Homo sapiens: one gene and its partners. The protein of the gene in region 1 purifies or fractionates together with the protein of each later gene. This does not show direct contact. Each region holds a gene or a part of one and is shown in the gene's direction. Other genes may lie near its edges. The genes, in order: LILRB3, FAM171A2, TMEM192 and LRRC34.

The links.
Region 2: the proteins of LILRB3 (region 1) and FAM171A2 purify together in Homo sapiens (affinity purification with mass spectrometry, with the first as the bait; 2 studies listed by BioGRID). This does not show direct contact.
Region 3: the proteins of LILRB3 (region 1) and TMEM192 purify together in Homo sapiens (affinity purification with mass spectrometry, with the first as the bait; 2 studies listed by BioGRID). This does not show direct contact.
Region 4: the proteins of LILRB3 (region 1) and LRRC34 purify together in Homo sapiens (affinity purification with mass spectrometry, with the first as the bait; 2 studies listed by BioGRID). This does not show direct contact.

Annotation. Positions count from the first base shown.
Region 1 is NC_000019.10:54,219,279-54,228,516, reverse strand, and holds the start of LILRB3 (leukocyte immunoglobulin-like receptor subfamily B member 3 isoform 2 precursor), read left to right. Parts: upstream 1-5,509; 5' UTR 5,510-5,540; coding exon 5,541-5,574; intron 5,575-5,734; coding exon 5,735-5,770; intron 5,771-5,954; coding exon 5,955-6,239; intron 6,240-6,386; coding exon 6,387-6,689; intron 6,690-6,730; exon of another isoform or gene 6,731-6,899; intron 6,900-7,137; coding exon 7,138-7,434; intron 7,435-7,686; coding exon 7,687-7,989; intron 7,990-8,311; coding exon 8,312-8,362; intron 8,363-8,597; coding exon of another isoform or gene 8,598-8,648; intron 8,649-8,912; exon of another isoform or gene 8,913-9,238.
Region 2 is NC_000017.11:44,352,910-44,360,853, reverse strand, and holds the end of FAM171A2 (protein FAM171A2 precursor), read left to right. Parts: intron 1-721; coding exon 722-949; intron 950-1,182; coding exon 1,183-1,275; intron 1,276-1,748; exon of another isoform or gene 1,749-1,909; intron 1,910-4,265; coding exon 4,266-4,424; intron 4,425-4,501; coding exon 4,502-4,681; intron 4,682-4,779; coding exon 4,780-4,896; intron 4,897-5,012; coding exon 5,013-5,139; intron 5,140-5,662; coding exon 5,663-7,121; 3' UTR 7,122-7,639; downstream 7,640-7,944.
Region 3 is NC_000004.12:165,069,333-165,075,433, reverse strand, and holds the end of TMEM192 (transmembrane protein 192), read left to right. Parts: 3' UTR 1-4,826; downstream 4,827-6,101.
Region 4 is NC_000003.12:169,801,961-169,810,308, reverse strand, and holds part of LRRC34 (leucine-rich repeat-containing protein 34), read left to right. Parts: intron 1-1,563; coding exon 1,564-1,681; intron 1,682-2,599; coding exon 2,600-2,721; intron 2,722-2,818; coding exon 2,819-2,883; intron 2,884-3,377; coding exon 3,378-3,461; intron 3,462-6,127; coding exon 6,128-6,256; intron 6,257-8,348. UniProt on the Homo sapiens protein: Highly expressed in stem cells where it may be involved in regulation of pluripotency. In embryonic stem cells (ESCs), important for normal expression of the pluripotency regulators POU5F1/OCT4 and KLF4.

The DNA of each region.
Region 1 (9,238 bases):
TGGTAGTTTGTATACTTCAAGATATTTTCTATTAAATGTGAGTTGTAAAACATCTTAGCATAGATTCCTAGTTTTGCTTCACTAGTCCTTTTATGTCTGTAGGATGGGTAGTGGTGCCTCTTTCCATCTTGATTTGGTAATTGTTGTGCTCCCTCTCTCTCTCTCACTCTCTTACTTTACATCCTACAAACGTTCATATGTTATAATTTCATTGACATTTTTCGTTAATGTTCTATCAATTTAATGTTGTGTGATTCTATAACCCATGAATATTTGTTTTTGCTTTTGCGATGGAGTCTTACTCTCTCACCCAGGCTGGAGTGCAGTGGCACAATCTCGGCTCACTGCAACTTCCACCTCCTGGGTTCAAGTGAATCTCCCGTCTCAGCCTCCCGAGTCATTGAAAATACAGGTGCATGCCACCACACCCAGCTAATTTTTGCATTCTCAGTAGAGACAGCATTTCACCATGTTGGCCAGGCTGGTCTCAAAGTCCTGACCTCAAGTGATCCACCTGCCTCAGCCTCCCAAAGTGCTGGGATTACAGGCATGAGCCACCACATCCAGCCTATAACCCATGAATATTTAGAATGTTATTTGTTTCCAAAGTATTGCTTTTTCTCTAAATGTCTTCTTATTGTTGGCTGCTAATTTAATTGAACTTCTAATCAGGAAACGTTACCTGTAGTAACAGTTTGGATGCTTACTTTGCTGTGTAAAAATGATAGAGACGGCTGGGCACAGTGGCTCTCACCTGTAATCCCACCACTTTGGGAAGCTAAGGCGGGTAGATCAAGAAGTCAGGAGACCGAGACCATCTGGGCCAATATGGTGAAATCCCGTCTCTACTAAAAATACAAAAAAATTAGCTGGGTGTGGCGGCGCACGCCTGTAATTCTAGCTACTCACAAGCCTGAGGCAGGAGAATCGCTTGAACCCGGAAGGTGGAGATTGCCGTGAGCCGAGTTCGTGCCACTGCACTCCAGCCTGGCGACAGAGCTACACTTCGTTTCAAAAAAAAAAAAAAGATAGATATTTCTGATCAATATGTTTTCATAAATAAGTATTCCTGGCCTCGCACAGTGGCTCACACCAGTAATCCCAACACTTTGGAAGGCCAAGGTGGGCAGATCCCGTGAGCCCAGGAGTTTGACACCAGCCTGGGCAACATAGCGAAACCTCGTCTCTACAAAAAAATACATATTAAAAAAATTTAGCCAGGCAAGGTGGCATGATCCTGTAGTCCCAGCTACTCAGGAAATGGTTGTGGCAGAATCACCTAGGCCTCAGGAGGTCGAGGCTGCAGTGAGCTGGGATAGTGCCATTGTACTTCAGATGGAGCAACAGAGAGAGACCTTGTTTCAAAAAAATATATATAAAGAAATATGCATTCCCACTTTGTTGCTATATGTATATTCCAGAAACGTTTCTATACAAATTTACATAATATATAAACAATCGAAACATCATATTTGCGCATGAGATTGAACATTTGTGCCATGCAACCCTCACGAATATTTTGTTCACTTAATCTATCAAAGTCTGATCAATATTTCTTCAAATCCTCCACTGTGTCTCAATTGATGCTTTGTAAATTTTAAGGACATGTGGTTGGTTGAGTGAAAGTGTATAACTTTCTCTTCTTCACAGATTGCTGATTTAAAAGTATGAAATATCCGGGCGTGGTGGCTCACGCCTGTAATCGCAGCACTTTGGGAGGCCGAGGCAGGCGGATCACGAGGTCAGGAGATCGAGACCACGGTGAAACCCCGTCTCTACTAAAAATAGTAAAAAATTAGCCGGGCGTGGTGGCGGACGCCTGTAGTCCCAGCTACTCGGGAGGCTGAGCCAGGAGAATGGTGTGAACCCGGCAGGCGGAGCTTGCAGTGAGCCGAGATCGCGCCACTGCACTCCAGCCTGGGTGACAGAGCGAGGCTCCGTCTCAAAATAAAATAAAATAAATAAATAAATAAATAAAAGTGTGAAATATCATCTATTTTTCTTTTCAAAGGCTGTTTGTGTTAGTATTGGTTTGCTATTGCTGCCATAACAAATTACACGTATTGAGCAGCTTCAGCAACACAAACTCATTATCTCACAGTCTTTTAGGACAAAATCAAGGCCATAACGTGGCTGCATTCCTTTCTGGAGGCTCCAGAGACGCGAATCCATTTCCTTGCTCTTTCAGATTCTTAGTAGAAATGCATATACTTGTATATACACAGATTACAGATAGATCTATGCTTATTCGTTTTTTGTATGTACTGTTGACTTATTCACAGTAGCATCTCATCTTCTCCATTTGGGGTTCATTATTCCACTCCCTGATTTACATTGTTTAGTATTGCTTTCAGAAAGAGCCCAGATGCAAACATGTCTGCAGCCTTGCAGCTCAAGCGATGCCTGCTTCTCTGTCTCTGTCTCTCTCCGTGTGTGTGTGTGTGTGTCTCCCTCTCCCTCTCTCTCTCTGTCTCAATCTCTCTCTGTCTCTCCGTCTCTCTCTGTCTGTCTCAATCTCTCTCTTTCTCTGTTGTTATCATAGTACCTGATAAAAGGACACTGAAAACGCCCTCCTTATTCCTCATAAGGCCACCGCCTGACCTGACGGGTCACGAGTGCCCCGAGTCTCCTTATGTTCTAGGATTTATCCACAGCTGACACTGCAACTCGGTCCTTTAATAATAACTAGGCCAGGTTGCGGTGAGCCGAGATCGCGCCATTGCACTCCAGCCTGGGCAACAAGAGCGAAATTGCATCTCAAAAGATAATAATAATAATAATAATAAATAATTATAATAGTAATAATTAGGCCCAGCACAGGAACTCTCTCCTCACAGTTAAACGCTTGTGGTTGTTTCTCCTGTATCTTCTGGGGCTGCTGTTTGCTCTTTGGAACTCCAGTCCCGATGAACTTGTCATTCATTCAAGGGTAATTTACATTTTCTCTGGTAGTTTTATGATTATTTTAAATTAATGCCTCATGGTTTTCACTTTACCATGATCGAGATATTCAATTTAGTTATAAACTGATGTTTTCTCTTCAGTTCTGTAAAAATTTCAACCATTAGCTCTTCATGCATATCATGAACTAACATCCTTCTTCCTTCTTTCATTCTGAAACCGTGACAGACACGTTCTTTCTTCTCATTCAACTTCGTGTATATATCAATATTTTCTATTGTTCAATTTCTGTTCTTTCCATGATACAGTCTGGAAAATTTCATGAATATTTTATCCCAATGTATATATTTATTATTTCAGCTGTCTTGCCCTGGATTAAATTATGCTTTGATTTTGTTATGTTTGCATAGTAGGTATATATGGTTAGTAAATTGCTTTTTTTTTTGAGACACAGTTTCGCTCCTGTTGTCCCAGCTGAAGTACAGGGGCGCAATCTCAGCACACAGCAGCCTCCATCTTCCAGGTTCAAGAGATTCTCCTGCCTCAGCCTCCCGAGTAGCTGGGATTACAGGCACTCACCACCACGCCCAGATAATTTTTTGTATTTTTAGTAGAGATGGGGTTTCACCATGTCACCCAGGCTGGTCTCGAACTCCTAGCCTCAAGTGATCTGCCCGCCTCCACCTCCCAAAGTGCTGGGATTACAGGCATGAACTACCATGCCCAGACATAAATTCCTTTTTAATGGCGTTAATTTAATATAGTTTTTCACCTTCACGATGTCTGTCTAATGCATTTCAACAACTGTCTATTTTGTCCTCATACGGTTGTCATTCCTGTGGGGCGGCTCCTCCCACGCACCTGGCCTTTCATAAAGGGTTTCTCCCACGGCTGTCCAGGCATCAGCCTGATGAAGGGGATTGTTGCCGCTGCTCCTGCCCCACTCCCCCAAACTCAGTGTCAGCTCAAGATTGTGCCCAGCAGCGATGGGACCAACGCCAGCCTCACACTCACCTGTGGGGCAGACGCCCATGTCTGACCACCGTGGATCGAATCTGTTTCTCACACACAGGGGAGGGGCTGAGCGCTGACCGTGGCCTCCAGTGAGTGAGCAGAGACCCCCCAGCGCCTGTCCACACACACAGGGGAGGGGGAGCCACCGCTTCCAGCCTCACCCAGAGCCCTGACCCCTCCCTGCCTGGGAGGACGTGGGGTTCCTCTTCTGTCCCACATGGAGGTGGGAGCCTCCTCCTCCCTAATGACGCTCGGTGGTCCCAGACACCTGTGGCCACTCAGCATTGAACTCTGCTCATGGAAGGGGATGCGTCTCAATGTGAGGAACTGTTTTTCCTCTTTCTCTGCCTGTGGCTGTGATGATCTGCATATTTCAGACGTATCACAAGGAGAATTTCATGGTATTTGGAGCCGATGTGGGCTCTTGAGTGGGGGCGTCAATCATCCTCCTCGACTGTGGAGCCCAGCACCAGGATCCTCTCCCGTCCCCACCCTCCTGTCTGAACTGGTCTGGAAATTCACCATGGCTGAGCCTCCCATGTCCTGGGCACCACTGACCCCCACAGCCACTGTGATGAGTGGGGTTCATGACAGCAGGCTCAGAGGTGACATTCATGTCCAAAGTCACATAAACCCTAGATGATAATCAGGAATTAAATACAAATCAGCTCACCTTCCCCAGAATCAGATTATAGATTACAATGAAACATATATATATATATTTCTCTTTATCCCCTCTATTTCTCCTTTTTAGACAGGATCTTGCTCTGTCGCCCAGGCTGGAAGGCCAAGGGGTGATCATAGCTCCCTGAAGCCTCCGCCTCCCGGGCCCAAGTGATCCTCCCACCTCAGCCTCCTGAGTAGCTGGGACCACAGGCATGAGCCTCCATGCCCAGCTCACTTTTTTCTTTTCTGTAGAAACAGGGTCACAGTCTGTTTCCCAGGACTGTCTGAAGCTCCTGGCCTCAAGCCATCACCCGCCACAGCCTCCTGAAGTACTGGGATTCCAGGCATGAGCCACCACGGTAGACCCTGCATTTCTCTGTGCTCACTGCCACACGCAGCTCAGCCTGGACTACACAGCCAGGTGTCAGGTGCGTCTCTGCTGATCTGAGTCTGCCTGCAGCATGGACCTGGGTCTTCCCTGAAGCATCTCCAGGGCTGGAGAGACGACTGCCATGGTAAGGACCCCGTAACGCTGAACTGATGGACGAGCTGAAGGAGGGAGGGAGACCCCATGGGGAGGCTCTGAGAGGGAGGAGGAGCCCACGGTCACCCTCGCCTGAAAGGGGCTGACTCAGGAAGGCACCAGGTCTATTTGCGGCTGTGTCCCCGTCCTCAGTGAGATAAAGATAAATCAGGCAGACAGTGGCCCGGGGGCAGGGAGACCCCATTTCTCTCTGAAATGCCTGCAGAGAGCCTGGTGCCTGCCCCCACTTCAGCCCTGGGGAAATCAGAGCCAGGTTCTTGGGGTGGCAGTTCCTCTTCCTGTGGGCTGAGGATGAGACAACCCCATGACAAGAAGGACCCAGCCTCCGAGCGGCCACACCCTGTGTGTCTCTCTGTCCTGCCAGCACTGAGGGCTCATCCCTCTGCAGAGCGCGGGGTCACCGGGAGGAGACGCCATGACGCCCGCCCTCACAGCCCTGCTCTGCCTTGGTGAGATTTCAAGATGGGGAGGGGGAGATCCGAGTCTTGGAGGAACCCCACCCCACACACAAGCCCTGGTCCATCAGGAGACCTCAAAAGCTCAGGAGGCACCCGGGCGGGGACCTGCTCAGGCTTCAGGGCAAATGCCTCACAGGGAACTCTCTTCCAGGGCTGAGTCTGGGCCCCAGGACCCGCATGCAGGCAGGTGAGTCTGTCCCCAGCTGTCCCAGGTCCCTACTCCTCACTGGGACAGGGGGCCACCCATGGGCAGCTGGGGGAGGAGACAGTAGTTCTGGGTGACTGATGGGGATGATGGGGAAGTCCTGGGGCTGGGAGCTGGGATCTGAGCGTGGGGATGTCTTGGGATCCAGCCTCTGATTTCCATCTAGGGCCCTTCCCCAAACCCACCCTCTGGGCTGAGCCAGGCTCTGTGATCAGCTGGGGGAGCCCCGTGACCATCTGGTGTCAGGGGAGCCTGGAGGCCCAGGAGTACCAACTGGATAAAGAGGGAAGCCCAGAGCCCTGGGACAGAAATAACCCACTGGAACCCAAGAACAAGGCCAGATTCTCCATCCCATCCATGACACAGCACCATGCAGGGAGATACCGCTGCCACTATTACAGCTCTGCAGGCTGGTCAGAGCCCAGCGACCCCCTGGAGCTGGTGATGACAGGTGAGAGGACACTCTGGGGTCCCAGCCCCAGGCTCTGCCCTCAGGAAGGGGGTCGGCTCTCAGGGGCGTCTCCCTCTCACAGCCCAGCCCTGGGGATGATGTGGGAGGTGGGAGCCCCATTTAACACGGTGCCTCTTTCTCTCCTAGGATTCTACAACAAACCCACCCTCTCAGCCCTGCCCAGCCCTGTGGTGGCCTCAGGGGGGAATATGACCCTCCGATGTGGCTCACAGAAGGGATATCACCATTTTGTTCTGATGAAGGAAGGAGAACACCAGCTCCCCCGGACCCTGGACTCACAGCAGCTCCACAGTGGGGGGTTCCAGGCCCTGTTCCCTGTGGGCCCCGTGACCCCCAGCCACAGGTGGAGGTTCACATGCTATTACTATTATACAAACACCCCCTGGGTGTGGTCCCACCCCAGTGACCCCCTGGAGATTCTGCCCTCAGGTGAGGGAGCCACGGCCTTGTCTAACACACTTTCGGGGCAGCTGACAGGTTGTGGGGAGTTTGGCTGGTGACTGAATCTGGAAAGGACCCAGAGTGATGTGTTGAAGGACGGGCTGAAGGCATGAGGGAGACCCCATGGGGAGGCTCTGACATGGGAGGAGGAGCCCTTGACCACGTTCACCTGGAAGGGGAGGACTCAGGAAGGCATCGGTGTGTTTGCTGTGAGGTCCCAGCTCTCAGGGAGAGGAGGAAAGATCAGGCACAGTGGCCAGGGCTAGGGAGACCCCACTCCTCTGAAATGACTCCAAGACAGCCCCGGGTGAGAAGGAGGCCCTGGGGTCAGAGACTCAGAGCGTGAGAGACAGTGAGACCTGCAGGGCCAGGACGGGAGAAGGAAGGGGCGTGGGAGGAACCAGCCCTCTCAGTCCTGGCTCCTCTTTCCCTCCAGGCGTGTCTAGGAAGCCCTCCCTCCTGACCCTGCAGGGCCCTGTCCTGGCCCCTGGGCAGAGCCTGACCCTCCAGTGTGGCTCTGATGTCGGCTACGACAGATTTGTTCTGTATAAGGAGGGGGAACGTGACTTCCTCCAGCGCCCTGGCCAGCAGCCCCAGGCTGGGCTCTCCCAGGCCAACTTCACCCTGGGCCCTGTGAGCCGCTCCTACGGGGGCCAGTACAGGTGCTATGGTGCACACAACCTCTCCTCCGAGTGGTCGGCCCCCAGTGACCCCCTGGACATCCTGATCACAGGTGAGGAGCCCAGCGGGTTCAGTCAGGGACCCAGGCTCTGCACAGGCCCTGCCGGGGGAGCCCAGGTGGTGATGGCCGGGATGAGGGGTGGGGGTCCCAAGGGAGGGAGAGACAGACAGAGACAGGGGATGGGGGGAGGGGAGACTCAGAGAAAACAGGGACAGAGACACTGAGGGTCCCAGGGAGAGGCCTGGGGAGGTGTCAGCTCAGAGCAAGGTGGGGCAGCCCCTCACCCATCCTTCTTCTCTCCAGGACAGATCTATGACACCGTCTCCCTGTCAGCACAGCCGGGCCCCACAGTGGCCTCAGGAGAGAACATGACCCTGCTGTGTCAGTCACGGGGGTATTTTGACACTTTCCTTCTGACCAAAGAAGGGGCAGCCCATCCCCCACTGCGTCTGAGATCAATGTACGGAGCTCATAAGTACCAGGCTGAATTCCCCATGAGTCCTGTGACCTCAGCCCACGCGGGGACCTACAGGTGCTACGGCTCACGCAGCTCCAACCCCCACCTGCTGTCTTTCCCCAGTGAGCCCCTGGAACTCATGGTCTCAGGTGAGGGCGCTGACCCCGTCCTCTCTGAGCTCAAAGGCTCAGCTCCGGCCCAGGCCCCCAGGAGAGCTCTCGGCTGGGATGGACCGAGGGAGGCTGTGAGGGAGGCTTAGCCAGAGGGCACCCAGCCCTCAGAGGGGAGGAGGCCAACAGGGGTTCTCCTAGGCGTGGCCACCCGTTCTCCCCTGCCTGGCATGCAGAAGGCACCAGGTGGGCAGAGAGATGGTTCCAGGGAATCCACTGGGCGGAAGCAGGAGAGTGGGAGTGGAAGGGTGCACTCCATGGACGGCCCCCGCCCCTCACCCGCCTCCCGTGCTCCTTCCAGGACACTCTGGAGGCTCCAGCCTCCCACCCACAGGGCCGCCCTCCACACCTGGTGAGTCACTGAGGCCTCTTGGGGAGCGCCGCCTCCCCCAGGGCAGTCTGAGTCTCCCAAAGGATCCCACTCCCCTCCCCTCAAGGACGGGCTTGTGTCCCAGGGGCTCTGAGGCTGGGCTGGTGAGGGGCGGGGGTCGAGGCAGAGGGAGATGTTGGGGCCCAGCCAGGAGGAGGAGCCGGGCTGATGTGGGGGGCAAGACAGCCCCAGCCTTCACCTCCCTGTCCTGACCCAGGAGGTCCTGAGGACCAGCCCCTTAACCCCCCAGGGTCAGGCCCTCAGAATGGTGAGTGAGGGGCTCTGAGTGGGAGATGGGCGGGGTCCAGGGGAGGCAGGGGTGGGTTCTGTCCTAGGTTCAGGCTCCTCTGGAGGTGGTGATGTGGACAGGCCCCTCCCCTGCCTGGGCCTCAGTTTCTCCAAGTGTAAAGGAGAGAGGCCTGTGGGTGGGAAAGTTCCTTTCAGCTCTGACCCCCAGCTGTGACCTCCTGGGAGAGGAGGCCTCCCAGGGAACCTCCCAGACCCGATTCCACAGGGGCCTGTCCCGTCCCACCTGCAGCAGTGACGGTGACCTGGGGCAGGGGAGGGGAGCAGGGCCGTGGTTCAGGACGGTCAGGCTCTTTCCCTGCAGCTCCGGGTCTCGGCTCTGGTGCAGGAACAAGGGCTGCAGGTCAGACTCCCGGGCTCCCTTCCCAGCTCTGCCGCTTCCTCGCTGGAGGCCTGGGGCAGGCGACTCCCTGCTCTGAGCCTCAGTTTGTGCATCTGTGAAATGGGTTGTACGGGTGGCAATTCCATGTTGCACGACTGCTTGTGAGGGTTGGAGGTCACGAAGGAAAGACCTGGCTCGCGCCTGCACACAGTAGGTGCTCACATCAATGA
Region 2 (7,944 bases), on another chromosome or scaffold:
AGGGAAACAGGCTTGTGCAAAGGATTCTGGGAAAAGGATGAATGATGGGAATGACCAGTTTCCTAGTGTCCCCTGTCAATTTTTTCCCAAGACCCCAAACTCTGCCCTAGCCTCCATCCTCCCTTTCAAACTGCTGAATCTTGACCCTTCTCCTCTCCGCCTGCGGACCCAGCTTTACTTAGCCTTTCTCAGCCCTCCTGTCCTTCTCCTCTCCCCAGGCCCGGGGTTAAGAATGTCGCTTCTAGAGGCAGACTGCCAGGTCTGGATCCCAGATCTCCACTTAGCTGTAGTCCAAGTATCTAAACTCTCTAAGCCTCAGTTTCCTTATCTGTAAAATGGACTAAGAGCATATATTATCAAATCCAATACACCACTGACTGTAAGATGCACCATGATTTCAGGTACCAGTAAGAAAGGAAGAAATGCTGCCAGTTATAACGATGGCATCATCAATCATAGGCATAGCCCGAGTTTAGAATTGTGAAAATGTGACACAGCGCATGTGTTAGACGATGAAATACAGGAATAGTCCCACCTCCGGCATGGGCTGATAGGAGGTTTCAGTGAGTGCTCTGTGAATGCTGGGTCTTAAATCATGCCTTCTCTAGCCTCAGCCCAAAAGACTCTCTCAAACACAGCTCCTTCCTCTGATCTTGGGGCTCCCCCCAGTTCTCTTTCCCCCTCCCTCGTCCTCACTCCCTTTGCCCCATCTTGCCCACAGAGATCCTGATCAAGGTGCAGGTGTATGTGAGCGGGGAGCTGGTGCCCCTGGCCCGGGCCTCAGTGGATGTGTTTGGGAACCGGACTCTGCTGGCAGCTGGCACCACAGACTCAGAGGGTGTGGCCACCCTGCCCCTCAGTTATCGCTTGGGCACCTGGGTGCTGGTCACTGCTGCCCGCCCTGGCTTCCTCACCAACTCTGTGCCCTGGCGTGTTGACAAGCTGCCCTGTGAGTGCAGGGGCAGGTGGAGGGGGGGGACAGCAGCTGACCCTCCATCAGCCCCTTCCCAAAATAGTCTCCTTGGGGGTGGAGGGGGAGGCTTTCCAGCAGCTGCTGCCTGGGCTGGGGTACACAGAGGGGGCTGAGGGAGGGTGAAGCCTCTGGGACTCAGATGGAGGGGGTGCCTGGCTGGGGGGTAGGGGGTGGGTTTTCCTGGAGCTGACCGGCCATCCCTCCCGCAGTGTATGCGTCTGTCAGCCTCTACCTGCTCCCTGAGCGGCCGGCCACGCTCATCCTCTATGAGGACCTGGTGCACATTCTCCTAGGCTCTCCCGGTAAGGCTCCCCCTCACCCACGCCAACTCTTCTTCCTTCCCCTGACCTAGGTGTAGAGACCTCCACTGTCCTATATTAGCTGGGTGTCCTTGGGCAAGTCACTTCACCTCTCTGAGCCATAATTTGCTCATTTGTAAGACGTGGAAGGTTAGTGCCTACATCATCAAATTGGAGTAAGAAATCACAAAGTGAAAAAACACAGTACAGAAGGTGTTCAATAAATGTTTACAGTTATCGGGGCTTCTCGTGGTTTCTATTCTCCATCTATTCCTACCTTCCCTGCCACCTTTATCTTCAATGGGTCTACACAGATTTGTTGTGCACCTGCTGGATGCACAGGTGCACAGGAAGTGCAAGGCCCAGAGCAAGCCTGCAGTTCCTGGTCTACCCCCAGGCTTTTGGTCTCGCTCAGCTAGTACTTACTTCAACTCCTAGGCTGTGCCAGGCATTGTGGCTGGTGCTGGGAACCACGGTGAGGAAGAAGACCCGCTCTTTGCCTTTGGACGTTCACAGACAAGTAGGAAGACAGATCATTGCAAGCCCTGAAATAGTTCCAGAGCAGGCAGGGCAGTGGAGTGGAGGGCAGCTGCTTTCAGTGCTGAGACGGCCCTAACCTGCGAGGGGACCTGGCTGGGTGAGAGCTTGTCGAACGGAGCAGTCAGCCCTCGACTCAGGAGTGAAGGGGAAGCAGAGGCACCTCCACTGGAGAGGAAGGCCAGGGGGAGACATCAGGTGGAGGGTAGTAGAGGACAGTGAGGGTTTGGGGGCTCCATTCCGCTTAGAGGGCCATGGTGGGTTTCGGAGTTTGAGGAACCCCATCCCAGTTTGTAGTCTCAGCTTGAGCCCTTGTCATGGAGCTAGTTTTTGTTGTTGTTGTTGTTGGGTTTTTTTTTGAGATGGAGTATTGCTCTGTTGCCCAGGCTGAAGTGGTATAACCTCGGCTCACTGCAACCTTTGCTTTCTGGGTTCAAGGGATTCTCCTGCCTTAGTCTCCTGAGTAGCTGGGATTACAGGCACCCATCACCACGCCAGACTAATTTTTGTATTTTTAGTAGAGACGGTTTTGCCATGTTGGCCAGGCTAGTCTCGAACTCCTGACCTCAGGTGATCCACCCGCCTCTGCCTCTCAAAGTGCTGGGATTACAGGCGCGAGTCACTTCACCCGGCCTCACCAAGCTGCTCTTGTTTGCTCACCTTCGTCACTCTGATCCCAAGCTTCTAAGTGCCCCTGCAGGTTTCTAAAATACCAGTGGACCCTTTGTGGCCCCCTAGCTTGAAGCCCCTGCATGGCGCCTACTGCTTTCAGTACCAAGCCCAGGTGCCATCTCAGAGCTGACTGCACCCTCCAGAGCCCGGGCCGCCCTCTGCCCCACGCCTCTGGGCCTTTCTCATGCCAGGCCTCCTGGATGTCCTTTCCCTCTTTCTTTCCTGGCTGAGTCTTCCACATCCTCCAAGACTCCACAGGGCCTCCCCTGAGCTGAGTGAGACCAGCTCCCCTAGTCCTCTGCATCCCTCTATTTGGATAGCAAGGCAGGAGGAATGGCATGGCAGAGGATGGGCCTGGAGCCCGATGGCCTGGGCTTCTATCCGGGCTCGAGGATTGTGACCTCGTGCAAGTTACTGAACCCCTGTGCCTCCATTTCTGCACCTCTAAAATGAGGTTGATAATAGATACCTAGCTCAGGGGCTATTTTCCTAATTGCAGGGGTTAATATAGGTAACCTGCTTAGAACAGTGCCCAGCATAGCTTAAAGATTAATAAATGTTAGCTGTGACCATATTGTATTGGAATTGTTTGTATGTCTGTCCCCTCCACCCCAACACACACACACACACACACACACACACGACCTAAACTGTCTAATGCAGTAGCCACTAGCTACATATTAAATTGAAGTAAATTAAATTAAAAATTCATTAATTTTTTTTTTTGAGATGGATTCTCACTCTGTTGCCCAGGCTGGAGTACAATGGCATGATCTTGGCTCACTGCAACCTCTGCTGCCTGGGTTCAAGCGATTCTCCTGCCTCAGCCTCCCGAGTAGCTGGGATTACAGGCGCCTGCCACCGCACCTGGCTAATTTTTGTAGTTTTAGTAGAGATGGGGTTTCACCATCTTGGCCAGGCTGGTCTTGAACTCCTGACCTCGTGATCCACCTGCCTTGGAATCCCAAAGTGCTGGGATTACAGGCGTGAGCCACCGCGCTCGGCCTTTTTTTTTTTTTTCTTTTGAGATGGAGTTTCGCTCTTGATGCCCAGACAGGAGTGCAATGGCACAATCTCAGCTCACCGCAACCTCCCCCTCCCAGTTTCAAGTGATTCTCCTGCCTCAGCCTCACGAGCAGCTGGGATTACAGGAATGCACCACCACACCCAGCTAATTTTGTATTTTTAAGAGAGTCAGGGTTTCTCCATGTTGGTCAGGCTGGTCTCCAACTCCTGACCTCAGGTGATCCACCCACCTTGGCTTCCCAAAGTGCTGGGATTATAGGCATGAGCCACTGCACCCACCTAGAAAAAAATCATTACATTTTTAAAAATTAAAAATCCAGTTCCTCAGTCACACTAGCCACATTTCAAATGCTTAACAGCCACGTGTGTCCAGTGGGTACCATAATGGGCAGCACACCTAGAAAACATTCCCATCACAGCAGACGTTCATCTTTGGGCCCCCAGTGTCTAACCTGGTGCCTGCCACATAGTAGACAATACTGTTTGAGGATCTGGATCGCAACATTTTATAGGTTCTATAAGGAAACTTTCTACTAAAACAAGTAAATTGCTGAGGGTCACACAGAGATTTCAGGTCCATGTCCCTTCCAGGTTAACATTCCATGACTGCCCAGCTTTCTCCCCAAGGCATCACCCTCCCTGGCCTTCCAAAGTGGCCTGACCTCATGTCCCCCTTTTCCTTAGATAATGGGTTTCTGCTCTGGTCCCTGGGGATCCCTGTCCATGGTCAAGCCACTGCAGCCCCTCTTTCCCTCCAGGTGCCCGCTCCCAGCCCTTGGTGCAGTTCCAGCGCCGGGCTGCCCGCCTGCCTGTCAGCTCCACCTACAGCCAGCTCTGGGCGTCACTTACGCCTGCCAGCACCCAGCAGGAAATGCGGGCTTTCCCTGCCTTCCTGGGCACTGAGGCCTCCAGCTCAGGTAGGCTGGGTGCCCAGCACGGATGGGGTCTCCCCAGGCTCAGGATCAGCCCTCAGCCCTGTACCCTCTTCCCTCAGGCAATGGCTCCTGGCTGGAGCTGATGCCCCTGACTGCTGTGAGCGTGCACCTGCTGACAGGTAATGGGACAGAGGTGCCGCTCTCAGGCCCCATTCACCTGTCCCTGCCCGTGCCCTCCGAGACTCGTGCCCTCACCGTGGGCACCAGCATTCCAGCCTGGAGATTTGACCCCAAGAGTGGTAAGTGCCTCAGGGGGCTGCAGGTGCTTGAGTTGAGAGAAGAAAGTGGGACTTGAGTGGGAGCGACTCAAGTGTGACAAAACCCCTGCCTCTCCCAGGGCTGTGGGTGCGCAATGGCACTGGTGTAATCCGGAAGGAAGGCCGGCAGCTCTACTGGACCTTCGTCTCCCCCCAGCTGGGGTACTGGGTGGCCGCCATGGCCTCCCCCACGGCTGGTAAGAGTAGTGGGGCAGTGGGCGTAGAGGCCGCGGAGGAGGGGAGCTGGGAGAGCAGACTTCTGAAAGGCAGGAAGGGTGTCTACACCTGAACGCTAAGCCCTCGCCTGGCACAGGGCTGGTCACCATCACGTCGGGCATCCAGGACATCGGCACCTACCACACCATCTTCTTGCTCACCATCCTGGCAGCCCTGGCCCTGCTGGTGCTTATCCTGCTGTGTCTGCTCATCTACTACTGCCGGTGAGCACGGGGCTTCCCTCACCCTCCCCTGCACTTGTACCGGGCCCTGGGGCCCCAAAGATGCATAAAATCCACTTCTGGTCCTCAAGGGGCAGACAGGAAAAGACTTCCTGCAAACATGCTAAGACCTGAAGGGCTGGTGCTGGTGGTTGAAGACAGCGGGGAGGTGGGAGGGGAGGCAGGGCTTAAGGACTTGCAGCCCGGCCCCTCCAGAGAGATCTGCCACTGCCCCTACCAGCCCAGCTCTCTCTCCCAGAGGACTCCAGGCCGGACACACCCATAGACAGCTTAGATGCTCATCCCTGGTTCTCGCAGCACATCCTACATGCAGAGGAGTGCAGAGTTGACCCTGAGGGGATCGCCAAACGGACACGGCGGCTCCCCGCCATCTCTCCTGAGCGCCCCAGGCATTCTCCCCACCTCTTCCACTATATTCGTCTCTTGTCTTGCATCTAAGGGGGTTCGGGGCCTACTTTGGCCCTCACCCTTTCCTGAGCGGCCCCTTCTGCTCCCTCCCTTCCAGGAGGCGCTGCCTGAAGCCGAGGCAACAGCACCGCAAGCTGCAGCTCTCGGGGCCCTCTGACGGTAACAAACGAGACCAGGCCACCTCGATGTCCCAGCTCCACCTCATCTGTGGGGGACCCCTGGAACCCGCCCCGTCGGGGGACCCCGAGGCTCCGCCTCCAGGCCCCCTCCACTCGGCCTTCTCCAGCTCCCGGGACTTGGCCTCCTCCCGGGATGACTTCTTCCGCACCAAGCCGCGCTCTGCCAGCCGCCCGGCCGCCGAGCCTTCGGGTGCCCGCGGGGGCGAGAGCGCCGGGCTCAAGGGCGCTCGCTCGGCCGAGGGCCCCGGCGGGCTGGAGCCCGGCCTAGAGGAGCACCGGCGGGGGCCCTCGGGGGCTGCGGCCTTCCTGCACGAGCCGCCCTCGCCGCCGCCGCCCTTCGACCACTACCTGGGCCACAAGGGGGCGGCCGAGGGCAAGACCCCCGACTTCCTGCTGTCGCAGTCGGTGGACCAGCTGGCGCGGCCGCCGTCGCTGGGCCAGGCGGGGCAGCTCATCTTCTGCGGCTCCATCGACCACCTCAAGGACAACGTCTACCGCAACGTCATGCCCACCCTGGTGATCCCCGCGCACTACGTGCGCCTCGGCGGCGAGGCGGGCGCCGCCGGCGTGGGCGACGAGCCGGCCCCGCCGGAGGGCACGGCACCCGGCCCGGCGCGCGCTTTTCCCCAGCCCGACCCCCAGCGCCCGCAGATGCCGGGCCACTCGGGCCCGGGGGGCGAGGGCGGCGGGGGCGGCGGCGAGGGCTGGGGGGCCGGGCGCGCGGCGCCCGTCAGTGGCTCAGTCACCATCCCTGTGCTATTCAACGAGTCCACCATGGCGCAGCTCAACGGGGAGCTGCAGGCCCTGACCGAGAAGAAGCTGCTGGAACTGGGCGTGAAGCCGCACCCGCGCGCCTGGTTCGTGTCCCTCGACGGGCGCTCCAACTCGCAAGTGCGCCACTCTTACATCGACCTGCAGGCGGGCGGCGGGGCACGCAGCACCGACGCCAGCCTGGACTCGGGCGTAGATGTCCACGAGGCGCGGCCCGCGCGCCGCCGGCCCGCGAGGGAGGAGCGGGAGCGCGCCCCGCCTGCCGCGCCGCCGCCGCCGCCCGCGCCCCCGCGCCTGGCGCTCAGCGAGGACACGGAGCCCAGCAGCAGCGAGAGCCGCACGGGCCTCTGCTCTCCGGAGGACAACTCGCTGACGCCGCTGCTGGACGAGGTGGCGGCGCCCGAGGGCCGGGCGGCCACGGTACCCCGGGGGCGGGGCCGCAGCCGCGGGGACAGCTCCCGCAGCAGCGCCAGCGAGCTGCGGCGCGACTCGCTCACCAGCCCGGAGGACGAGCTGGGGGCGGAGGTGGGCGACGAGGCGGGAGACAAGAAGAGCCCGTGGCAGCGGCGGGAGGAGCGGCCGCTGATGGTGTTCAACGTCAAGTAGCGCCCGCGCAGGGCCTGGCACCGCCCCTCCCGCGCGGGCCCGCACCCAGGGTGCGCGCCCCGGGGGCCCGCGGGGGCCCTCGCGCGTAGCTCCCAGCCCCAGGCCGGAGAGGGGCCCAGGGGCCTTGGAGCTGTTCCGTGGTTGGTGCTGGGTCGTGTCTTGCAAGGGACCCTGTGTCTGCCTCCAAGCCGGGGAGGAGGGGGGGTCCAGACCCCCACGGGGAGGTGCCGGGGAGGAGGGCTGGGGGGAAGCAGTGCCTGTGTAGACGTGGCTGTACATAGAAAGCTCTATTGTGGGAAAGCAGGAGGGGTGACCCAGCCTCAGCTGCTAGTGTGAGGGCTGGGAAGGGAGGGGGCGTTCTTTGTGGACCCCTGGGAGGGGAGGGGGTGCTGCTTGCTGACTAGCCCATCTCTGGGCTACGATGTCACAGGGCTGGTGGCTGGGACAGCTCTGGGGACTAGGGGGTAATGTGATACAGCCGATGTGGGCAGCAGCAAATATAAAACTGGTGAGGTTAAGGCTGTGTATGTCTTTCTGTGGGGTAGGGGAGGGGAGTGTTGGCAGTGGACGTGAACCCCTGTTCTGGGGCCCTGGGGAGGGCAGGCAGGGCGGCAAATCAGACACTGTTAAGAAAGTGTACAAACTTTATTGAAACGCACACGCGCACACACACAAACACCCCTGTGGATAGGGAAAAGCACCTGGCCACAGGGTCCACTGAAACGGGGAGGGGATGGCAGCTTGTAATGTGGCTTTTGCCACAACCCCCTTCTGACAGGGAAGGCCTTAGATTGAGGCCCCACCTCCCATGGTGATGGGGAGC
Region 3 (6,101 bases), on another chromosome or scaffold:
AAATACAAAAATATTAGCAACATTAGCTGGGTGTGGTGGTGCGCGCCTGTAATCCCAGCTACTCAGGAGGCTGAGGCAGGAGAATTGCTTGAGCCTGGGAGGCAGAGATTGCAGTGAACCAAGATGGTGCCACTGCACTCCAGCCTGGCGACAGAGCAGAGCGAGACTCCATCACAAAAAAAAAAAAAGAAAGAAAAGAAAAAAAATTGTATTTCTAGTAGAGACGGGGATTCACCATGTTGGCCAGGCTGATCTTGAATTCCTTACCTCAGGTGATCCACCTGCTTTGGCCTCCCAAAATGCTGGGATTATAGGCATGAGCCAGCTCACCTGGTCTCCATACCCTTACCAATAGTGGGTGTTACCTTATTTAAGTCTTGACCCATCTGATGAGTGTGTCATTGTTTCAAATTGTATTTCTTTGGATACTAATGAAGTGTTAAACATTTTTTCCAAATTATATGGTCTTTTATAAATCTTTTATGACATGTATATTCAAGTCCTTTGCTTATTATTGTCCCAGGATATTCTTTTTCTTAACAACTAGAATCTTCTGGTTGGGCGTGGTGGCTCCCGCCTGTAATCCCAGCACTTTGGGAGGCCAAGGCAGGCAGATCACTTGAGGTCAGGAGTTCGAGACCAGCCTGACCAACATGGAGAAACCCCATTTCTACTAAAAATACAAAATTAAGGCTGGGCGCAGTGGCTCACACCGGTAATTCCAGCACTTTGGGAGGCCGAGGCAGGCGGATCATGAGGTCAGGAGTTCGAGACCAGCCTGACCAACATGGAGAAACCCCGTCTCTACTAAAAATACAAAATAGCCAGGTGCAGTGAAGTGCACCTGTAATCCCAGCTACTCAGGAGGCTGAGGCAGGAGAATTGCTTGAACCCGGGAGGTGGAGGTTGCAGTGAGCCGAGATCGCACCACTGCACTCCAGCCTGGGTGACAGAGCGAGACTCTGTCTCAATAAATAAATAAATAAATAAATAAATCTTGAATACAAAACTCACATCTGGTAAACTCTTGAGTTCTTGAAGAATCAAACTTTGAATATGTGACAATCACAAATTTGAGATCTCAAAACATTCTCTAGGTTTCCTAAGGAAAATTGTTTCATTCGCAAACCAGGGAAGCCTATCTCTAATTCTTCTCCCTTCCTCTCTATCCAGTCTCACCTTTCACTCTACTACTCTACTGAAACTGTTCTTGGCAAGGTCACCAATAGCTTCCTTCCACATTGCTTAAATTGGAGATGAATGCATACGTCTCCTCTTTTAACTTATCAGCAACACTTGGCTCAGTTGATTGAGGGGGGGTCTGCCCCTCCACACCTGTGGGTATTTCTCGTCAGGTGGGACGAGAGACTGAGAAAAGAAATAAGACACAGAGACAAAGTATAAAGAAAGAACAGTGGGCCCAGGGGACCAGCACACCCAGCATGCGAGGACCTGCACCGGCGCCGGTCTCTTGAGTTCTGTTAGTATTTATTGATCATTATTTTTAATATCTTGACGAGGGGAGTGTAGCGGGGCAACAGGTGGGGAGAAGGTCAGCAGGGAAACGTGAGCAAAGGAATCTGTATCATGAATAAGTTCAAGGAAAGGTACTGTGTCCGGATGTGCATGTAGGCTAGATTTACGTTTCTCTTTACACAAACATTTCAGTGTAGCAAAGAGTAACAGAGCAGTATTGCTGCCAGCATATCTCGCCTCCAGCCACAGGGCAGTTTTCTCCTATCTCAGAATAGAACGAATGGGAATGGTCAGCTTTACACCGAGACATTCCATTCCCAGGGACGAGCAGGAGACAGAAGCCTTCCTCTTATCTCAACTGCAAAGAGGCCTCCCTCTTTCACTACTCCTCCTCAGCACAGACCCTTTACAGGTGTCGGGCTGGGGGATGGTAAGGCCTTTCCTTTCCCACGAGGCCGTATCTCAGGCTGTCTCAGTGGGAGGAAACCTTGGACAATACCCAGGCTTTCTTGGGCAGAGGTCCCTGCGGCTTTCCGCAGTGCATTGTGTCCCTGGTTAATCGAGAATGGAGAAAGGCGATGACTTTTACCAAGCATACCACCTGCAAACATATTGTTAACAAGGCACATCCTGCACAGCCCTAAATCCATTAAACTGATCCAATACAGCACATGTTTCTGTGAGCACAGGGTTGGGGCTAAAGTTATAGGTTAACAGCATCTCAAAGCAGAAACAATTTTTCTTAGTACAGATCAAAATGGAGTTTCTTATGTCTTCTTTTTCTACATAGACACAGTAACAATCTGATCTCTCTCTTTTCCCCACAGTTGATCACTTCCTCCTTGACTCTTTATTTCAGCTTGGCTTCCAGGACACTACATTCTCCTCATTTTCTTCTACTTCACTAGCTTCTTCTTTTGTCTGCTTTGCAAGTTGCTTTTTGTTGGTATTCTCCAGGGCTCAACCCCTGGGCCTCTTGGCTTCTCCATCAGCGTTCACTCTCTTGGTGGTCTCACACAATCTCATGACTTTGATAGAATTTATGAGCTGATAATTTCCAAATGTGAATCTTCAGCCAGGCCTTCCTCCCTGAACTCCAGACTTATGTGTCCAACTGCCCCTTCTAGATCACTACTTGGGTATATAAAAAAACACCTCAAACAGAACATGTCCCCAGCTGAGCTATCTGCCACAGTCTCTTCCACCCCTGTAATGGCAGCTCCTCTTTCTCTCAAACCCTATAGACAGTTAATCAGCAAATCCTGCTGGCTTTTCCTTTAAAACATACCCAGAGTCCAACCAATTCTTGGCACCCCCAATGCTACTTCCCCAGCCACTATAATCTTCACCTGGACTATTATAATAGTCTTTCGGTTTTTTGGTTTTGTTTTTTTTTTTTGGGGGAGGGAGTCTCGCTCTGTTGCCCAGGCTGGAGTGCAGTGGCGCGATCTGGGCTCACTGCAACCTCCGCCTCCCAGGTTCAAGTGATTCTCTTGCTTCAGCCTCCTGAGTAGCTGGGATTACCGGCACATACCACCACACCCAGCTAATTTTTTTATATTTTTAGTAGAAAGGGGGTTTCACCATGTTAGCCAGGCTGGTCTTGAACTCCGGACCTCAGGTCATCCACCCGCCTTGGCCTCCCAAAGTGCTGCAATTACAGGCATGAGTCACTGTGCCTGGCCCTATTATAATAGTGTTTTTCTTTTTCTTTTTCTTTCTTTCTTTTTTCTTGAGATGGAGTCTCACTCGTGTCGCACAGGCTGGAGTGCAGTGGCGCAGTCTCGGCTCACTACAACCTCCGCTGCCCAGGTTCAAGCAATTCTCCTTCCTCAGCCTCCTGAGTAGCTGGGATTATAGGTGTGCTTTTTTTATTTTTAGTAGAGACGAGGTTTCACCATGCTGACTAGGCTGGTCTGGAACTCCTGACCTCATGATCCTCCCTCCTTGGCCTCCCAAAGTACTGGGATTACAGGCATGAGCCACCACACCTGGCCTATAAGAGTCTTTTAAGTGATCTTTCTGCTTCTCACTACCTCTCCACCCTGACCCCCCAGCCCCATGCACACACACAAAAAGCAGCCAACAATATCCTTCTAAAACACTACTCTGATGGTTCCCTTTTTCATTCAGTAAAAGCCAAAGCCTGGACAGTGGCCTTCAGGGACCTAGAAAATCTCCACTTCCCACCCCACCCCACCTCCTCTCTCCTACTCTTCCTTTGTGTACCCTGCGTCGGTCACACTGTGGCTTTTGGATTGCTAAGCACATTCTTACCTGAGGACCTTTGCGGTTGCTGTTCCCTCTGCCTGGAAGGATCAACTCCCATATATCTTTTTCAAGTCTTTGTTCAAATGTCACTTGTGGCCAGGTGTGGTGGCTAACCCCTGTAATCCCAGCACTTTGGGAGGCTGAGGTGGGTGGATCACTTGAGGTCAGGAGTTGGGAGACCGGCCTGGCCAACACGATGAAACCCTGTCTCTACTGAAAATACAAAAATTAGCCAGGCGTGGTGGCACGTGTCTGTAATCCCAGCTATTCAGGAGGCTGAGGCAGGAGAATCACTTGAACCTGGGAGGTGGAGGTTGCAGTGAGCCAAGATCGCACAGCTGTACTCCAGCCTGGGTGACAAGAGTGAGAATCCGTCCCCCCCCCAAAAAAAAAAAATCCTCCCACTTCAGTCAGCCTCCTGAGTAGCTGGGATTATAGATGTGCACCACACCACCACACGTAACTTTTATTATAGTATATTGCTATAATTATTCTATTTTGTTATTAATGTTGTTACTCTCTGTGCCTAATTTATAAATTTAACTTTATTGTAGTTATGTGTGGATAGGAAAAAATATAGTGTTCGTAGGGTTTAGTACTATCTGTGGCTCCAGGCATCACCTGAGGTCTTGCAATGATTCCCCTGCAGACCTGTGGCTCCAGGCATCACCTGAGGTCTTGTAATGTTTCCCCTGTAGATAAGGGGAAAATACTGCATGTAACTTACTTGTTTACTTTGTCTGTGTCTCCTGATAGAATGTAAGCTCTATCTTTTGCTTACTACTGTGTCCTTCATACATAGAACAGTGTCTGGCACAAAGTAGGCACTCAATATACGTTGATGAATTAATGTCACTAACTTCAGTGATTTCACTACTGGAATTGTAGTAGAAAAACTATGCTCACACATGCTCAAAGCCTGTTCCTGTAATCCAGCTGTAACCTGGGCTCTGTTTTCACTTTCTGTTTATGATGTCCTGAACTGAGAGATTATTTTTTTAAGGTCTTGTTTAAAAGTTTATGTCTAGGATACACTAAAAAATAACAACATATCAGAAATAAAAGAGATAAGACTGCTAGTTTTTATAATCACTGCTATTTACTATTGTCCAAAAGTGCCCATCAATACAGTTGGATAAAGGAGCAGGATTAATTTGTGCATGGGATGGTTATATATTAATATCTAGAAAATTTAAGAATTAACCATTAGACATCTAGAGAATTTAAGAAAAACCATTAGAAAGCAAGGGTGGCAGACTGTAAAACATGAAGATAACAATTTTCTTACATACCAAAAAGAACCAGTTTAAAATACAATTGGAAAGGTACCATTGCCGATTGCATATAAACATATATTCAGGAATATTTGTTAACCTTTTAGAGCTCTGCTCCTACTAATCCAGTCCCATATTAATAAATATTTAAGACATTTCTGTTATTATATAGGAACTAGATGTTCAGATAGAAATTTCAAATTGGGGCGGGGCATGGTGGCTCACGTCTGTAATCCCAGCAATTTGGGAGGCCACTGCTGGAGAATCTCTTGAGCCTAGGAGTTGGAGACCAGCCTCCTGTTGAAAAGACCCTCTCTCTGTTGAAAAAAAAAATTTTTTTTTTTTGAGACGGAGTCTCACTCTGTCGCCCAGGCTGGAGTACGGTGGCGCAAACTCTGCTTACTGTAATCTCTGCCTCCCAGGTTCAAGCGATTCTCCTGCCTTAGCCTCCCTAGTGGCTGGGATTACAGGTGCCTGCCACCACGCCCAGCTAATTTTTGTATTTTTAGTAGAGACGGGGTTTCACCAGGTTGGCCAGGCTGGTCTGGAACTCCTGTTAAAGTGCTGAGATTACAGGCGTGAGCCACCACACCCAGCCCACATTTGTAATTTAAATGAATAAGATAAAAATAACCTATTAGAAAACACATGGCCATGGCCGGGCGCGGTGGCTCACGCCTGGAATCCCAGCACTTTGGGAGGACGAGGTGGGTGGATCGCGAGCTCAGATGATCGAGACCATCCTGGCTAACATGGTGAAACCCCGCCTCTACTAAAAATACAAAACATTAGCTGCGCATGGTGGCGGGCGCCTGTAGTCCCAGCAACTCGGGAGGCTGAGGCAGGAGAATGGCGTGAACCCGGGAGGCGGAGCTTGCAGTGAGCTGAGATTGTGCCACTTGCACTCCAGCCTGGGTGACAGAGCAAGACTCCGTCTCAAAAAAAAAAAAAAAAAAAAAAAAGAAAAAAGGAAAAAAAAAAAAAAGAAAACAGATGGCCAGTCATGGTGGCTCATGCCTATAATCCCAGCACTTTGGGAGGACGAGGTATGAGGATTGCTTGAGCCCAGGAGTTTGAGAC
Region 4 (8,348 bases), on another chromosome or scaffold:
CAATTGTGGTTGTTCTTTGGCAGTGGGATTGCAGATTAACATGTATTTTTTTTTAATGTTAGAAATTTCCGGTCGGGCTCAGTGGCTCACCTGTAATCCCAGCACTTTGGGAGGCTGAGGCAGGCTGATCACTTGAGGTCAGGAGTTTGAGACCAGCCTGGCCAACATGGTGAAACCCCGTCTTTATAGCTGGGTGTGGTGGTGTGTGCCTGTAGTCCCAGCTACTCGGGAGGCTGAGGCAGGAGAATCGCTTGAACCCGGGAGGCAGAGGTTGCAGTGAGCCGAGATTGCGCTCCTGCTCTCCAGCTTGGGTGGCAGATCAAGAACCTATCTCAAAAAAAAAAAAAAAAGAAATTTCCAAATTGTCTGGAATAAGTATATTAAATTTATTTTTAAAAAGGTTATTAAAAACTATAAGAAAATTTTGTTTGCTTTCATCTGAAATGTAATGTTCCTCATGTTAAATCTCGTTCTGCAGATCCGTTTAGCAAACTCATTATTCTTCAGAGTGCAAAGGACACTCAGTAAACAACATTTCTGAGATGTAGAGACTTAGAAGAGAAGCCAGCTCCTAAAAAGCTAGGCTGGTTGAGCAATGAGATCTCTGTGCACAAATTTTTAAAAGACATCCACAAAAGGTAGATGTATAGAAAACAAAGACAGTGGCCTGTACTTCTAAGAAAAGTAACAGCATAACTTCCACCCCAGAAGATGTAGGCCTTGCAGAAGATGCTTTTGAGGTATTACTGAGAACAGCAAGGTCATTAAGGAAATCTGCATGTATAACAGAAAGGAGATCTCAACTCCTGCTTTGTGTCTGTCTTCTTAAGAACTTAGGGAAAAGTCACCTTTAGAAAGAGGAAATGGAAGGCTGGGTAGGAGAAGAGCTTCTGTGAGCCAGGCCTCGATTTGGTATGAAGAAATGACAGTTACATTCAAACTTGGGATGGTGTAGAGGGTATCCAAGAAGCTTGTGGGAGTAGGTGCTTTATCAGATCCCTTTTGAGTTAGGTTATTAGATAAAATTGTTTTTATGTGAAGCTATTTTAAGAAACCTTTTCCTCTCGTGGATGCTGAGATACTGAGTTGAAAAAAAAAAAAAAAAAAAAGAAACCTTGAGTCCCTGTAACCCATTAGGGCACAGTGGAAAGAGGTTTTGGAATCAGTTTGATTCTGCACTCTGCCTTTATTAGCTGCATGGTTTTGGACAAAATATACAATTTCTTTGGAAGTCATTTTCCTCAGCTACCAGGCCTGGCACATAATGGAGCTTAGTTCTCCCTTTATGTCACTTCCAACGTAGGGTGCTCACTTGAGCCAGTGTCTGCCAAGCCTCAATGGGTGCTTCAATGGCCCTAGTTCTCCAAACAGCATTTTAATTATCTCTCCCATTCATTATTTTTATTTCTCTTCTCTTTTTCTAACCTTAATTCTGTTTCCTTTTCTTCCCTACCCCCACTATACACACATACAACTCATATATTTGAAAGAGGTAGTTTTTATGGTTTTTTTTAAAGCTTCTAGAATAATTTATATGTGATAGAGGATGCATATATTTTTCAGAATCTCCAGAATCTGGTCTCCAGAAACATTATTCTAATCTGTGTATGGAAAAATCCCAGAAAATTAATCCTTTTATATTGCATATACTCCAAGAAGTGGATGAAGAAATTAAAAAGGGGTAAGAAAGACAAATACTTGATTACATTAATAGTGTTTGCTTATATTCATGTGTGTGAAAATCCTAACATATTGAGTGATTTTATAGCCATTTGAAAATGCTTGGTAAAATGAACATACCATTTGATTCAGGTAAGTAAGTACACGAGCAACACTGTTAGTAGGTCTTAGAGGTGGTATAGTATTCAGGAAAGAGCACTAGACCAGGAGTACCCAAGCTTGGGCTCCAGAGTGATCTTTAACTTCTGTGGGTGGGGTGAATCTTTTTTTTTTGTTTGTGGGCAGGGTGAATCTTTTTTTTTTTTTTTTTTTTCTGAGATGGTGCCTCCCTCTGTCGCCCAGGCTAGAGTGCAGTGGCGTGATCTCGGCTCACTGCAAACTCAGCCTCCTGGGTTCAAGCAATTCTCCTGCCTTGGCCTCCCGAGCAGCTGGGATTACAGGTGCTCGCCACCATGCCCGGCTAATTTTTGTATTTTTTAGTAGAGACAGGGTTTCACCATGTTGGCCAGGCTGGTCTCGAACTTCTGACCTCAGGTGATCAGCCCGCCTTGGCCTCCCAAAGTGCTGGGATTACAGGCGTGAACCACCACGCCTAACCTGAGCTGGGTGAGTCTAAGCAAATCACTGAAGTTTTCAGTGTTATCTATAAAGTGGGGATACTGTTTGTGTGAGTGTGAGTGTGTGTGAGAGAGCTAAATATATGGAATCTTTTAAAGCACTTTGCAGTCTGCAGAATGTTCAGTAGTTTTAAGTTACCTGGTATAAATATACTGTATAAGTCTACTTATTATATGCTTGCTTCCAGTAAATGATATCTGTGATATGACTATTTATACATGAAGGAAACATACTTTTACTTCTTTACTGGGTTTCTATTTCAAAATCTTTTTTTTTTTTTTTTTTTTTTGTATTTTAACAGGCTAGCAGCAGGAATCACATTAAACATTGCTGGTAACAATCGCTTAGTGCCAGTAGAAAGAGTTACAGGTGAAGATTTTTGGATTCTTTCCAAAATTTTAAAGAATTGTCTGTATATTAATGGTATGTTTCCATAAGAATCAATACCTCCTGCTTTTCATTGATCTGATTTTAAGTATTCTTTATAATGAATATCCACTTCTATTCATCTGTGCTTCAGGTTTGGATGTTGGATATAACCTTCTATGTGATGTTGGTGCATACTATGCTGCGAAACTGCTTCAGGTATTATTTTACTACAAAATGTCCTTAGTTCCATTTACAATGAAACCAATTAGTCTAATGACACACACATAAAACACTAGTTTTACCTGATGTCAAGGGTCCTGACTCTGTGCTAGAACACTCGAAATATACTGGAAACCCATTGTGGATTTGGTCTCAATGGAGCCAGTAGCTAGAGCTCCTAAGTTATCTTTTGCAAACTTGTACACCATGATTAAATATATACACCACACATCTTTCAGATTGATCAAAGGTAAATATAGTTTTTTCTTTCATTTATATTGTAATTATATTTTGATTACATGAGAATGATTTTTTTCCTTAATGTAGTTGTTTTTGCTAGGATACAGTTTTTCTTGGTTATAAAGATTTTCTTTGGAGGAAAACACTTATTCAAATAAAGTATATACTGTATGTGTATATGTATATACATGTATGTAAAACTGACCAATTTCCAATAATAATAATGTGTAATAGCTTCTTTTCTCTTATAGAAACAACTTAATCTCATTTACTTAAACCTCATGTTTAATGATATTGGGCCCGAAGGTGGAGAATTGATTGCTAAAGTGCTACATGTAAGCATTTATGTATTTCAAACTAACATTGTATTTGGAAATTCTAACTTCTGATAGCTTGGAACCAACAGTGTCCAATGTTGAAGTGAACTTATTTTAATATTGTAGGAATGTATATTTTTATTATACTTTAATTTATTCAAGTGTAGACATTGCATGAACACTTTTGAAGTCATAGTTTTACTAAGATTTAACTCACATACATAAAATATACCCTTTGAAAGTCTTCAGTGGTTTTTTAAGTATTAATATATTCACAGGGCTGTGCAAGTATCACTACTATCACTATTTTAAAAACATTCTTATCACCCCAAAAAGAAAAGCCCTAAACTCATTAGCAATCCCTCTCCATCTTTTCTACCCCCTGCTCTCCAGCCCCTGGCAGTCACTAACCTACTTCGTCTCTCTATGTATTTGCCTATTGTGGACATTTCATATAAACAGAATCATACAATATGTGGCCTTTTGGGACTGGCTTAATGTTTTCAAGGTTCATCTTGAAAACCCAGTCACAAAGATTTATGTTTTTTTAAGAGTTTTACAGTTTTAGCTCTTTCTTTGATCCATTTTAATTTTTGAATATGGTATGAGGTAGGAATCCAACTTTATTCTTTTGCATGTGTATATCCACGTGTCCTAACACCATTTGTTAAAAGACTATTCTTTCTCCCATTGAACTGTCTTGACAGTTTTGTCCAAAAATCAGCTAACCATCATTACAGGAGTTTATTTCTGTACTCTCAATTCTATTCTTTTAATCTGTATGTCTATCCTTATGCCAGTACCACACTATCTTGATTACTATAGCTTTGTAGTAGGTTTTAAAATCAAGAAATGTGTCCTTGTTCTTTTTTCAGGATTGTGTTGGCTCTTCTGTGTCCCTTGCATTTCCATATGAATTTTAGGTCAGTTAATCAATTTCTGCAAGAAAAGCAGCTGGGAGTTTTTTTTTTTTTTTTTTTTGAGATGGAGTTTTGCTCTTGTTGCCCAGGCTGGAGTGCAATGGCGCGATTTTGGCTCACCACAACCTCCACCTCCTAGGTTCAAGCAATTCTCCTGCCTCAGCCTCCCAAGTAGCTGGGATTATAGGCATGCACCACCATGCCTGGCTAATTTTGTACTTTTAGTAGAGACAGGGTTTCTCCACGCTGGTCAGGCTAGTCTCAAACTCCCGACCTCAGATTATCTGCCCACCTCGGCCTCCCAAAGTGCTGGGATTACAGGCATGAGCCACTTCACCCGGCCAGCAGCTGGGATTTTAATAGGAATTACAGTAAATCTGTAGATCACCTTGGGGAGTATTGCCATCTTAAGTCTTCCAAACCTCGAACATAAGATGTTTCATTTATTTAAGGCCTTTCATTTCTTTCAGCAATGCTCTGTAGTTTTCAATGTGCAAATCTTACATTTCTTTTGTTAAATTTATTCCTAACTTTTTTTTATGCTATTGTAAGTGGAACTGTTGTTCTTAATTTCATTTTTAGGTTGTTCATTGTTAGCATATGGAAATACAGCTGTTTTTGTATATTGATCTTGTGTCCTGCTATGTTGCTGAACTCTTGTGTTAGTTCTAACAGGTTTTTTTGGTGGAATCCTTAGGATTTTCCCTATGCAAGATGGTGTCACATACAGAGTTTCACTTCATTTCCAATTTGTATGGTTTTTCTTTTTGTTTTTCTTGGCTAATTTCTCTGGCTAGAACCTCCAGTACAATGTTAAATAGAAGTGGTGAGAGGACATCCTTTTCTTCTTCCTGATCTCAGAGGGGTTTGAATCGTGATAATTATTTACACTATTATATGTCCTAATAGTTACTCATTAGAATGATGAAATGTCTGTGATTTTGTGAAATATTTATCAAATTATATTACTTTAAAAGTGATATAGGAGGAATGGGGAGTGACTGGTTAATGGTATAGGACCGGCTTCGGGGATGATGAAAATGTTTTGGAACTAGCTACAGGTGATGACTGTGCAATATTGTGAATGTACTAAATGCTACTGAATTGTATACTTTAAAATGGTCAGTTTTATGTTATGTGAATTTCACCTCAATTTAAAAAAGTGAAGTGCTATAATTTTCTTAAGATAAATTTACAGATTTTTCCAGTGAAAGTTTATTAATATATGTTTTATTTACTGGTTATTGCTTGGGCATCTGTTTCTTGGGCATTCTTTCTACTCAACTGTTAAACTAGATTTTTATCTATTATGGTAGATTGAATGTTACCTTTAAGGTATATATCCTCTTCTGGCTGGGCGCGGTGGCTCATGCCTGTAATCCCAGCACTTTGGGAGGCCGAGCTGGGCAGATCACGAGGTCAGATCGAGACCATCCTGGCTAACATGGTGAAACCCCATGTCTACCAAAAATACAGAAAAAAATTAGCCAGGCGTGGTGGTGGGTGCCTATAGTCCCAGCTACTTGGGAGGCTGAGGCAGGAGAATGCTGTGAACCCAGGAGGTGGAGTTTGCATTGAGTCGAGATCACACCACTGCACTCCAGCCTGGGCGACAGAGCGAGACTCTGTCTCAAAAAAAATATATATCGTGTTCTAGCTCCATGAAAATTGGAGTCTGCAAATAGTAATACAGTCTCCTAATTCATGTAATATATAGAATTCTGTGGATTAACAATTATTAAATAAGTTTTTTTTCCTTTTCAGAAGAATCGGACTCTGAAATACCTAAGAATGACTGGAAACAAAATTGAAAATAAAGGTGGAATGTTTTTTGCTGCAATGCTGCAAATTAATTCATCATTAGAGAAATTAGATCTGGGTGACTGTGATCTGGTGAGTAAACTGGTTATGAGAAAATCATCCAGATAGTGGGTCATTAGAGAACAGCTAAATCAGAGTCTTATGAATGATTAATTTTGCCTCTTATGTCTAATATCAGAGAAAAGGTGTTTTTCCCCTAGACATAATAGTGCAGATTATTAATAAAATCAGACTATAGTAAATAACATAGAAAAATACTTAATAAAAATATTCCTAAACTTCCATCTATATAACTCATCTTAAACTGTATGGAATTTTTAGAAAAAGATCATGTTCACTTTAATTAAACAAATATTACTTTATTCATATAATTTTTTACTTTTGAAAATACATTTTAGGCTGCAGTGGCTCACGCCTATAATCCCAGCACTTTGGGAGGCTGAGGCAGGTGGATCACCCGAGGTGAGGAGTCCAAGACCAGCCTGGCCAACATGGTGAAACCCCGTCTCTACTAAAAATACAAAAATTAGTCGGGGCCTGGTGGCGGAAGCCTGTAATCCCAGTTACTCAGGAGGCTGAGGCAGGAGAATTGCTTGAACCAGGAGGTGGAGGCTGCAGTGAGTTGCACTCCAGCCCCTGGGCGACAGAGTGAGACTCTGACTCAAAACAAAAATAAAATACTTTTTAGTAGTTACTTATATTGTAGCACAAAAACTTAAAATGATGATGCTAAAAGCTGCTCTGAAGCTGGGCGACATGACATGCACCTGTAGTCCCAGCTATTCAGGAGGCTGAGGTGGGAGAATCTCTTGAGCCCAGGAGTTTGAGGTTACAGTTCACTACAACCGTGCCTGTGAACATCCACTGTACTCCAGCATGGGCAACATGGTAAGACCCTGTCTCTAAAAATTATTAAAAAAGATAAAAGTCGCTTTGAACCTTCACCTGGCCTGATAATGAAAAATGTGTTTTTTTGCATGTCTTCAAATTCCAGGCTTCACTTTCTCTGACATGCTTTCAAATCTTTAGGCCTACTCTTGGGAACCTGTTGTATAGCCTCAGGTTAATCAATGTGACATGAAAATAAGATGGGCCAGGGGGCTCTCTGGTATAATAGATTCTGAAGGATTAACTTTTTTTTTTTTTGGAGACAGAGTCTCACTCTTGTCACCCAGGCTGGAGTGCAATGGCGTGATCTCGGCTCACTGCAACCTCCACCTCCCGGGTTCAAACAATTCTCCTGCCTCAGCCTCCTGAGTAGCTGGGATTACAGGTGCCTGCCACCACGCCCAGCTAATTTTTTTTTGTATTTTTAGTAGAGACGGGGTTTCATGATGTTGGCTAGGCTGGTCTCAAACTCCCGACCTCAGGTGATCCACCTGCCTCGGCCTCCCAAAGTGCTGGGATTACAGGAGTGAGCCACAGCGCCTGGCCAAGATTAACTTTTTAAGGTGGTAGATGCAGCCAGTGTGGTTCTGGGAAAACATTAATTCGGTACTTATCATCTCCACATACCAGTCATTGTGCTGGACACTAATGATACAACAGTGAATCACATGGCCTCTGCCTCTGCCCTTATGAAACTTATATTTTAGTTGGGGAAACACCAATGAAGAAGTAGAGGAAAGTGCTACAAAAATGACTGAGTACTCTGATAATGGGGAGAAGTAATTCTGCTACAGGAGGGTTGCCTAAGACTTATATTACTAAGGTAATATTTACGAGTTATGAAGGATGAGAAAAAACTCATGGAGAGTGTCCATGTCAGAACCTTCCAGGCAGAGCACCAGCATGCACAGACATTAAGATAGTGCTTCCCTAAGTGTGGCATGGGTAGCATTCTTGGTGCAGAGTGAGGTAATTTTCATACTCATATATTTATTTTTACAGATGCTTTCTGTTTGTTTCAAGGGATTATGGTTTTCCATTTACAGCAGTGATACAAAGTTTTATTTTAAAATAAATATAATTGAAAAAGTGAGTTGATTTAATGGGAAAGTATTAAGTAAATGGTGTAAAGTAAGTTTGGGCGTGGTGGCTCACGCCTGTAATCCCAGTACTTTGGGAGGCCAAGGCAGGCAGATTGCCTGAGCCCAGGAGTTTGAGACCAGCCTCAGCAACATGGGAAAATACCGTCTCTACAAAAAATACAAAATTTAGCCAC